Linked DNA regions of Homo sapiens: region 1 is linked to region 2. The links come from fine-mapping of genetic effects on gene expression. A gene starts in region 2. The other region holds a variant in brackets. All regions are shown on one strand. Distances are from middle to middle.

What was found. PIP is the estimated chance that this variant, and not a neighbour inherited with it, causes the effect.
Region 1: its variant is fine-mapped to the expression of RPGRIP1 in lung (TOPMed, PIP above 0.99).

The regions. Positions count from the first base shown.
Region 1 is chr14:21,318,083-21,322,082 of GRCh38, forward strand. It overlaps RPGRIP1 (RPGR interacting protein 1), which reads left to right. Exons shown (of 25, transcript NM_020366.4): 12 at 1,935-2,095; 13 at 3,177-3,320; 14 at 3,772-3,922. Among named protein-coding and RNA genes, the nearest start is that of RPGRIP1, 40 kb to the left of the region's middle. The variant T/TG (reference allele first, on the strand shown) is at 2,265.
Region 2 is chr14:21,278,179-21,282,705 of GRCh38, forward strand. It overlaps RPGRIP1 (RPGR interacting protein 1), which reads left to right and starts at 1,905. Exons shown (of 25, transcript NM_020366.4): 1 at 1,905-1,981.

The DNA of each region.
Region 1 (4,000 bases), 40 kb after region 2:
AAGATGCTAGTTTTTGTTTGTTTGTTTGTTTGTTTGTTTTTGAGGTGGAGTTTCGCTCTTGTTGCTCAGGCTCGAGTGCAATGGCACGATTTCAGCTCACTGCAACCTTCACCTCCCAGGTACAAGCGATTCTCCTATCTCAGCCTCCCAAGTAGCTCGGATTACAAGCATGCACTACCACGCCTGGCTATTTTTTTTTTTTTGTATTTAGTAGAGATGGGGTTTTACCATGTTAGTTAGGCTGGTCGTGAACTCCTGACCTCAGATGATCCACCAGCCTCAGCTTCCCAAAGTGCTGGGATTACAGGCGTGCGCCACTGTGCCCGACCTGCCAGTTTTTAATTTATTATGTTTTTTAAACGTTCAGTTTATTGAAAGTTTTCTTTTGTTTGGTTTGGTTTGGTTTTGTTTCTGAGAGAGTCTCACTCTGTCACCCAGGCTGGAGTACAGTGATGCGATCTGGGCTCACTTCAACCTCTGCCTCCCAGGTTCAAGAGATTCTCCTGCCTCAGCCTCCCGAGTTGCTGGGATTGCAGGTGCCCACCACCACACCCAACTAATTTTTTGTATATTTTAGTAGAGACGAGGGTTCACTATGTTGGCCAGGCTGGTCTGAAACTAACCTCAAGTGATCCACCCGCCTCAGCCTCCCAAAGTGCTGGGATTACAGGTGAAAGCCACTACACCTGGCTGAAAGTATTGAAAGTGAATTTCTTTGTCTTTTATCCTTCTCATCATTTTAGAGGTAACTGGAATACTTTTTTTTTTTTTTGCCATCCAATTCTTGAAATTGAGTAGCAAATTACTATTCTTGGTTACCACTGCCAGTTCACCCCCGTCTTAACTCTTGGATCTCAGGAGATAGGTATTTGGAACATTTTTAAATACTGTCAAAAAGACCTTCATCTTACTACTTTTTCCTAGCCTGGACCTTAATATTTAGTTTTATCAAATTTATATCTCATCAAGTTTTAGTGTATTCAAATAGGGAACGGAAGGAAAAGAAATGTGTGAAATCAAGAAAAATAGAGGCAAGAACCATGTTTAGGAGCACATGCCAATTAGTATGTTTGAAGCACAAATGAAGTCTTGTAAGGACCTTCAGGGCAATCTAATTTAATCCCTTCTCTAATGCATGATGGAAATGATCTGCTCACTAAACACCGATTACCTTTATTCCCTGAAAAACACACACACAGCCTGGTGTGGTGGCTCATGCCTGTAATCCCAGCACATTGGGAGGCCGAGGCCAGCAGATCACATGAGGCCAGGAGTTTCAGACCAGCCTGGCCAACATGGTGAAACCCCATCTTTACTAAAAACACGAAAATTAGCCAGTCGTAGTGTCGTGCGCCTGTAATACCAGCTACTCAGGAGGCTGAGGCACAAGAATCGTTGAACCCTGGAGGCATAGGTTGCAGGGAGCCAAGATCGCACCACTGCACTCCATCCTGAGTGATGGAGTAAGACTGTCTAAAGAGAAAAACACACACACACACATTGGAACACAGAAATGCCCATCCTCCATCCAGGCCAGGGTGGGTGTGAAGATGGGTGCCACAGAGAGCTAGTAACCTAGAAGTCAGAATGGAGTGGGGGTGGAGTTGGTGAGATACTGGTTTCGATGCTGCTGTCAAAAAGTTTGGATTACCCTAGTCAAGTGATTCCCTTTCTGTTTTGTGTTGTTATTGTTATTCCACTTTCCACTCTACCATTCTGCAGGTGTCTTTTGTTTTCGGAGTGCAAGTAGTATCACCTCAGTTTACTGAGTCAATAAGCTAGAGTCCTCCTCTGTAGAAATAATAGAGAATTGCTTCTCAAATTTATAACATTAATTAAACCTTAGTGGGAAGATTAAATTCACACTTGATCCAACTCTGACCATGGTGATAAATAACTACAGAATTTCACATTTCTGGATTATTTTTCCCCAGCCCAAAATGAGGATCTGAAGCTTGAAGTCACCAACATACTTCAGAAGCATAAACAGGAAGTAGAGCTCCTCCAAAATGCAGCCACAATTTCCCAACCTCCTGACAGGCAATCTGAACCAGCCACTCACCCAGCTGTATTGCAAGAGAACACTCAGATCGAGGTAAGAGCCTCTTTAAACAAACTAGTCCACTCTGCAGAGAGATCTCTGGCAAATATCTCTAGGGAAGATGATGAGATTAGAAAACTAACTAAATAATATTTTGTCCTGACTGAGGACACTCTTTTTTTTTTTGAGACAGAGTCTCGCTGTCGCCCAGGCTGGAGTGCAG[T/TG]GGCGCGATCTCGGCTCACTGCAGGCTCCGCCCCCTGGGGTTCACGCCGTTCTCCTGCCTCAGCCTTCCGAGTAGCTGGGACTACAGGCACCCGCCACCTCGCCCGGTTAATTTTTTTGTATTTTTAGTAGAGACGGGGTTTCACCGTGTTAGCCAGGATGGTCTCGATCTCCTGACCTCGTGATCCGCCCACCTCGGCCTCCCAAAGTGCTGGGATTACAGGCGTAAGCCACCGCGCCCGGCCCACTCTTTTTTTTTTTTTTTTTTTTTGAGATGGAGTTTTGCTCTTGTTTCCCAGGCTGGAGTGCAATGGCGCGATCTCGGCTCACTACAGTCTTTGCCTCCCAGGTTTAAGCAATTCTCCTTCCTCAGCCTCCCGAGTAGCTGGGATTACAGGTGCTTGCCACCACAGCCGGCTAATTTTTTGTATTTTTAGTAGAGACAGGGTTTCGCCATTTTGGCCAGGCTGGTCTCGAACTCCTGACCTCTGGTGATCCGCCCAACTCAGCCTCCCAAAGTGCTGGGATTACAGGCACGTGCCACTGTGCCCTGCTTGAGGACACTTTTTGGAAAACTGTGAGAAGGCAGAGCGTAGAGAACTTCATGAGCTCCACCCATTTCTTCCACTCTTTGCAGCTCATAAAATTTAGAATCTTTTTCAGATGAGGACTTGAAAAGATCTGTGGAAGAGCAAACAGCCATTAGTGGCTGTATCATCTCCCTTCACTGCTGCTACTGAACATGAGAACTAGGGGAAAGAGCACTTGTGAAGTCATACAGGTCCTTGTTTACATTTTGGAGTAGTTTCTGCTGCTGGCATTTTACTACTACCAACAACTGTTTTATGGAGAATCATTATTACTTTACCTGTCATATTTATACTCCCTTTTACCAATGCGTTTCCCTCTACAGCCAAGTGAACCCAAAAACCAAGAAGAAAAGAAACTGTCCCAGGTGCTAAATGAGTTGCAAGTATCACACGCAGAGACCACATTGGAACTAGAAAAGACCAGGGACATGCTTATTCTGCAGCGCAAAATCAACGTGTGTTATCAGGTGCAAGGAAAGATGGTACAGGAAGGGGATGGATAACAGGAACGTGGGAACCACTCACAGGACTGGGAATGAAGCAAGACCTAAGTTTCCAGGGCTGATACCAGGTGATGTGCTATCCTGAGCAAACACACAATGGCTGTCCTTTGAAGAACTTGAGGACTCACACATGCCCACGGCACCTTGGCACTAGGAGCCAGTGATGGGGCCAGCCCATGCCAATGGCAAGCGTAAGGCTTCTGGGTTCAAATTTTGCCAGTCCTAGGAACCACCCTACCTCAATGATAGCACAACTAGTCTTGGAGGGGTCTGCAAGGAAATCAAACCTTCTTCTAGTGGGTGAACCTGCCCAGCTAAGGATAGCAGTCTTCTTGACCTAGCCAGTGCCACATTTTTTATGCTCTTTGGTTTTAGGCCACTGAGATAGAAAAGTTCAGACATTATTTTGTTTCAGGAGGAACTGGAGGCAATGATGACAAAAGCTGACAATGATAATAGAGATCACAAAGAAAAGCTGGAGAGGTTGACTCGACTACTAGACCTCAAGAATAACCGTATCAAGCAGCTGGAAGGTATTTTAAGAAGCCATGACCTTCCAACATCTGGCAAGTCTTAGTCCTTTGTTCTCCTCACTTCGGGACCCTTCCACAGCTAACGCCTGTGTTCCACTCTGTGTACTTGTC
Region 2 (4,527 bases):
CGGGTGAATCACCTGAGGTCAGGAGGTCAAGACCAGCCAGGCCAACATAGTGAAACCTCATCTCTACTAAAAATACAAAAAATTAGCTGGGTGTGGTGGCGGGTGCCTGTAATCCCAGCCACTAGGGAGACTGAGGCAGGAGAATCTCTTGAACCCGGGAGGCAGAGGTTGCAGTGAGCCAAGATTGTGCCATTGCACACCAGCCTGGGCAACAAGAGCAAAACTCCGTCTCAAAAAAAAAAAAAAAAAAAAATTAACAAAAGTCAGAGGTTCAGAAAAGAGAACACGATTATCAAACACAAACTTGGCTTACTTCAAAATTAATTTTGTCCTGCACTGTCTCTGGCTAGAGCATCTTAAAAAAGGACAGAAAATCCCAGATTTATCAAGAAATAGCTTGGGCAAGAAGCAACCTTAAGTGCATAAAAGCCCAGCTTTTAAATTTTATAAATCTGTCATTTAAACCTGGTAAAATATTATATTGAATTTTCCTCTCTTCACTGGGAAATGTATGTGTCCTGGATACTTTCTCTACTTCCTAATTGTCTCCCTAGCTTTATTTTATTTTATTTTATTTTATTATTTCATGGGATTTAGAGGAAGTCACATGGGGCCCATTAACTATGTGTTCATCCTCCTGGAAATCCCCGAACCTCATGCCAATAACCAGAATGGAGCTTTCTCAATGCACCCATTCAGTGCATTAAAGAGAGGATTTAGGCCAGTCGTGGTGGCTCAGGCCTGTAATCCCAGCACTTTGGGAGGCCAAGGTAGGTGGATCACCTGAGGTCGGGAGTTCGAGACCAGCCTGACCAACATGGAGAAACCTTGTCTCTAGTAAAAATACAAAATTAGCTGGGCGTGGTGGCGCATGCCTGTAATCCCAGCTACTCAGGAGGCTGAGGCAGGAGAATTGCTTGAACCCGGGAGGCAGAGGTTGCAGTGAGCCGAGATCGCACCATTGCACTCCTGCCTAGGTAACAAGAGCGAAACTGCATCTCAAAATAAATAAATAAATAAAGAGGATTTTATGTAACAATTGAGACCGTATTCCACTTAATATATAATATGAATGCAGTGACCAGCCTTGCAGAATTTTTAAGAACATTTAATTTTCTTATATCAAATCCTATTGCTTCATAATTACATCCCAAAGTTTGGTTTCAAAACGGTGGTCACGGTGAAATGGAAGATATACATTCTCTTACTCGAAAGCACTGGCACATGTGGACTGAATAGGCATGTTGATCCCACCAACGGTGCAGTGTTTGTTCTCTTCAAAGGGATCTCAGGGCTTCAGAACAACTCCCACTGTTGTTGCCCTTCAGATAAAGATTTAAAGAATATCGGCCGGGCGCGGTGGCTCAAGCCTGTAATCCCAGCACTTTGGGAGGCCAAGGCGGGCAGATCACCTGAGGTCAGGAGTTCGAGACCAGCCTCAACATTGAGAAACTCCATCTCTACTAAAAATACAAAGTGAGCTGGCTGTGGTGGTGCATGCCTGTAATCCCAGCTACTCGGGAGGCTGAGGCAGGAGAATTGCTTGAACCTGGGAGGCAGAGGTTGCGGTGAGCCGAGATCGCGCCATTGCACTCCAGCCTGGGCAACAAGAGTGAAACTCTGTCTCAAAATAAATAAATAAATAAATAAAAGATTTAAAGATCATCCTCTGAATACCAACAAATTTCTTTTAATCTCAAATCCCGCAAATGTGTTCTCAGCTTTAGTTTTAGTTGAGAAGTGGATCTGTTAAGGACCCTTTAAGCTGCTCTTTCTCCAAGTCAAACATGCATAGAGAAAAAGCACAGCCTTCACACACTCTGATCTACAAAGAGTTAACATCTTAAAAGCTAAACAGAACTGGATTAGCTCCTCTTTTAACAAGCCAGAAGGACAAGCTTATTGGAACCTAGAGTACTAAAGGACACCAGAACATTGAGAGAAAAGAATTAGCGACAGCTATCTGGAGCAAGCAAGAACTGTAAGTTTCTATCTGATGCATATTTATAGTTTCCTATGTCTTCCCTAGGGGTGTTTTTGAGAAGAATGAAATAAGTTTATTCTTTTTTTTTTTTTTTTTTTTGAGACAGAGTCTTACTCTGTCGCCCAGGCTGGAGTGCACCGGCACTATCTCTGCTCACTGCAACCTCTGCCTCCCAGGTTCAAGCGATTCTCCTGCCTCAGCCTCCCAAGTAGCTGGGGACTACAGGCATGCGCCACCATTGCCCGGCTAATTTTTGTGTTTTTAGTAGAGACGGGGTTTCACCATGTTTGCCAGGCTGGTCTTGAACTCCTGACCTCAGGTGATTCACCCGCCTCGGCCTCCCAAAGTGCTGGGATTACTGGCATGAGCCACCGCGCCTGGCCTGGTTTATTCATTTTCTATTGTACCACCAGTCTCCCAGGCATCCAGCACAACATTACCAAGTCATCTTTAATCCTGTCACCCTCTTAACTCTATCTCACGTCCAACCAGTTGTCACATCTTTTGATTCTCCTTCCTCAGTGTCTTCATGATCCATCCTATTCTTCCATCCCCCACCCCCCTCCTTCCCTAGTTCAAGACTTCTTGCCTGAACTATAGCAATATCCTCTTAACACTGTTCTCTCCCCAATTTCCAAATCACTAATAGTAGATGAATCTTCCTAATGCTCTTCCATAGCTCTAATTATATTGCTCTTTTGCTCAGAAATGTATCCACTATCTGCAGAATGAATAAAACTCCTTTTCAAATTAATTAATTTTTAATTGACAATTTGAAATTGTATATATTTATTGTGTAAAATTTGTTGCTTTGAAATATATATATAGAGAGAGTGGAAAATGGCTACCTTGGGCTTTTCTTTTTTTTTTTTTTGAGACAGAATCTCTCTCTCTCGTGAGGCTGGAGTGCAGTGGCTCAATCTCGGCTCACTGCAACCTCTGCCTCCTGGGTTCAAACAATTCTCCTGCCTCAACCTCCCGAGTAGCTGGGACTACAGGTGCGCACCACCATGCCCAGCTAATTTTTGCATTTTTAGTAGAGACAGGGTTTTACCATGTTGGCCACGGCCAGGATGGTCTTGATCTCTTGATCTTGTGATCTGCCCGCCTTGGCCTCCCAAAGTGCTGGGATTACGGGCGTGAGCCACCACACCTGCCCAATCTTGGGCTAATTAAAATATGTATTACCTCATATGCTCATCAATTTTTTGTGTTTGATGAGAACACTTAAAAATCTACTCTTGGCCCAGGCGTGTTGGCTCACACCTGTAATCTCAGCATTTTGGGAGGCTGAGGCGGGTGGATCACTTGAGATCAGGAGTTCAAGACCAGTCTGGCCAACATGGCAAAACCCTGTCTCTACTAAGAATAGAAAAATTAGCTGGGCGTGGCGGCTTGCGCCTGTAATTGCAGCTGCCTGGGGGGCTGAGACATGAGAATTGCTTGAACCCTGGAGGCAGAGGTTGCAGTGAGGCGAGAGCATACCGCTGTACTCCAGCCTGGGCAACAGAGTGAGACCTTGTCTCAAAAAAAAAAAAAATAAATAATAATAATAATAATAATAATAATAATAATCAGAGTAAGGGGAACTGGCTACAAAATTTTAAATGCTTGCCCAGTGATACAGAGTGTAAAAAAGAAAAAAAAGAAGTCTGGGCAGGGTGGCTCATGCCTGTAATCCCAGCACGTTGGGAGACCGAGGCTGGCGGATCCCAAGGTCCGGAGTTCGAGACCAGCCTGGCCAAAATTGTGAAATCTTGTCTCTACTAAAAAATACAAAAAATTAGCTGGGCATGGTGGCAGGTGCCTGTAATCCCAGCTACTCTGGAGGCTGAGACAGGAGAATCGCTTGAACCCGGGAAGCGGAGGTTGCAGTAAACTGAGATTGCAACATTGCACTCCAGCCCAGGCAACAATGTGATACTCTGTCTCGAAAAAAGAGGAAAAGAAAATTTTAATTGCTGATGTCATCAAGCTGGCTTTATACGTCTATCCATCTATCACTAGTAAAGGGTTCTTCACCCTCACTAACCTATACTTGTCCAAGTGCACTGCAATTCTGAATATCACTGCAAGGAAATTTTTTTTTTTTTAAGACGGAGTCTTGCTCTGTCACCCGGCTGGAGTGCAGTGGCGTGATCTCACCTCACTGCAATCTCTGCCTCCCAGGTTCAAGCAATTCCCCTGCCTCAGCCTCCTGAGTACCTGGGACTACAGGCACGCACCACCATGCCTGGCTAATTTTTTTGTATTTTAGTAGAGACGGGGTTTCACTATGTTGACCAGGATGGTCTCGATCTCCTGACCTCATGATCAGCCCGCCTCAGCCTCCCATAGTGCTGGGATTACAGGCGTGAGCCACCACGCCGGGTGGAAGTTTCTTCAGTCTTTCATCCTGTTGAGTTCAAAACAATTGATAAACCCTTTTAGAATCTACATTCCATTTTTTTTTTTTTTTTTTTTTTGAGACAGAGTCTCGCTCTGTCTCCCAGGCTGGAGTGCAGTGGCGTGATCTCGGCTCACAGCAAGCTCCGCCTCCCAGG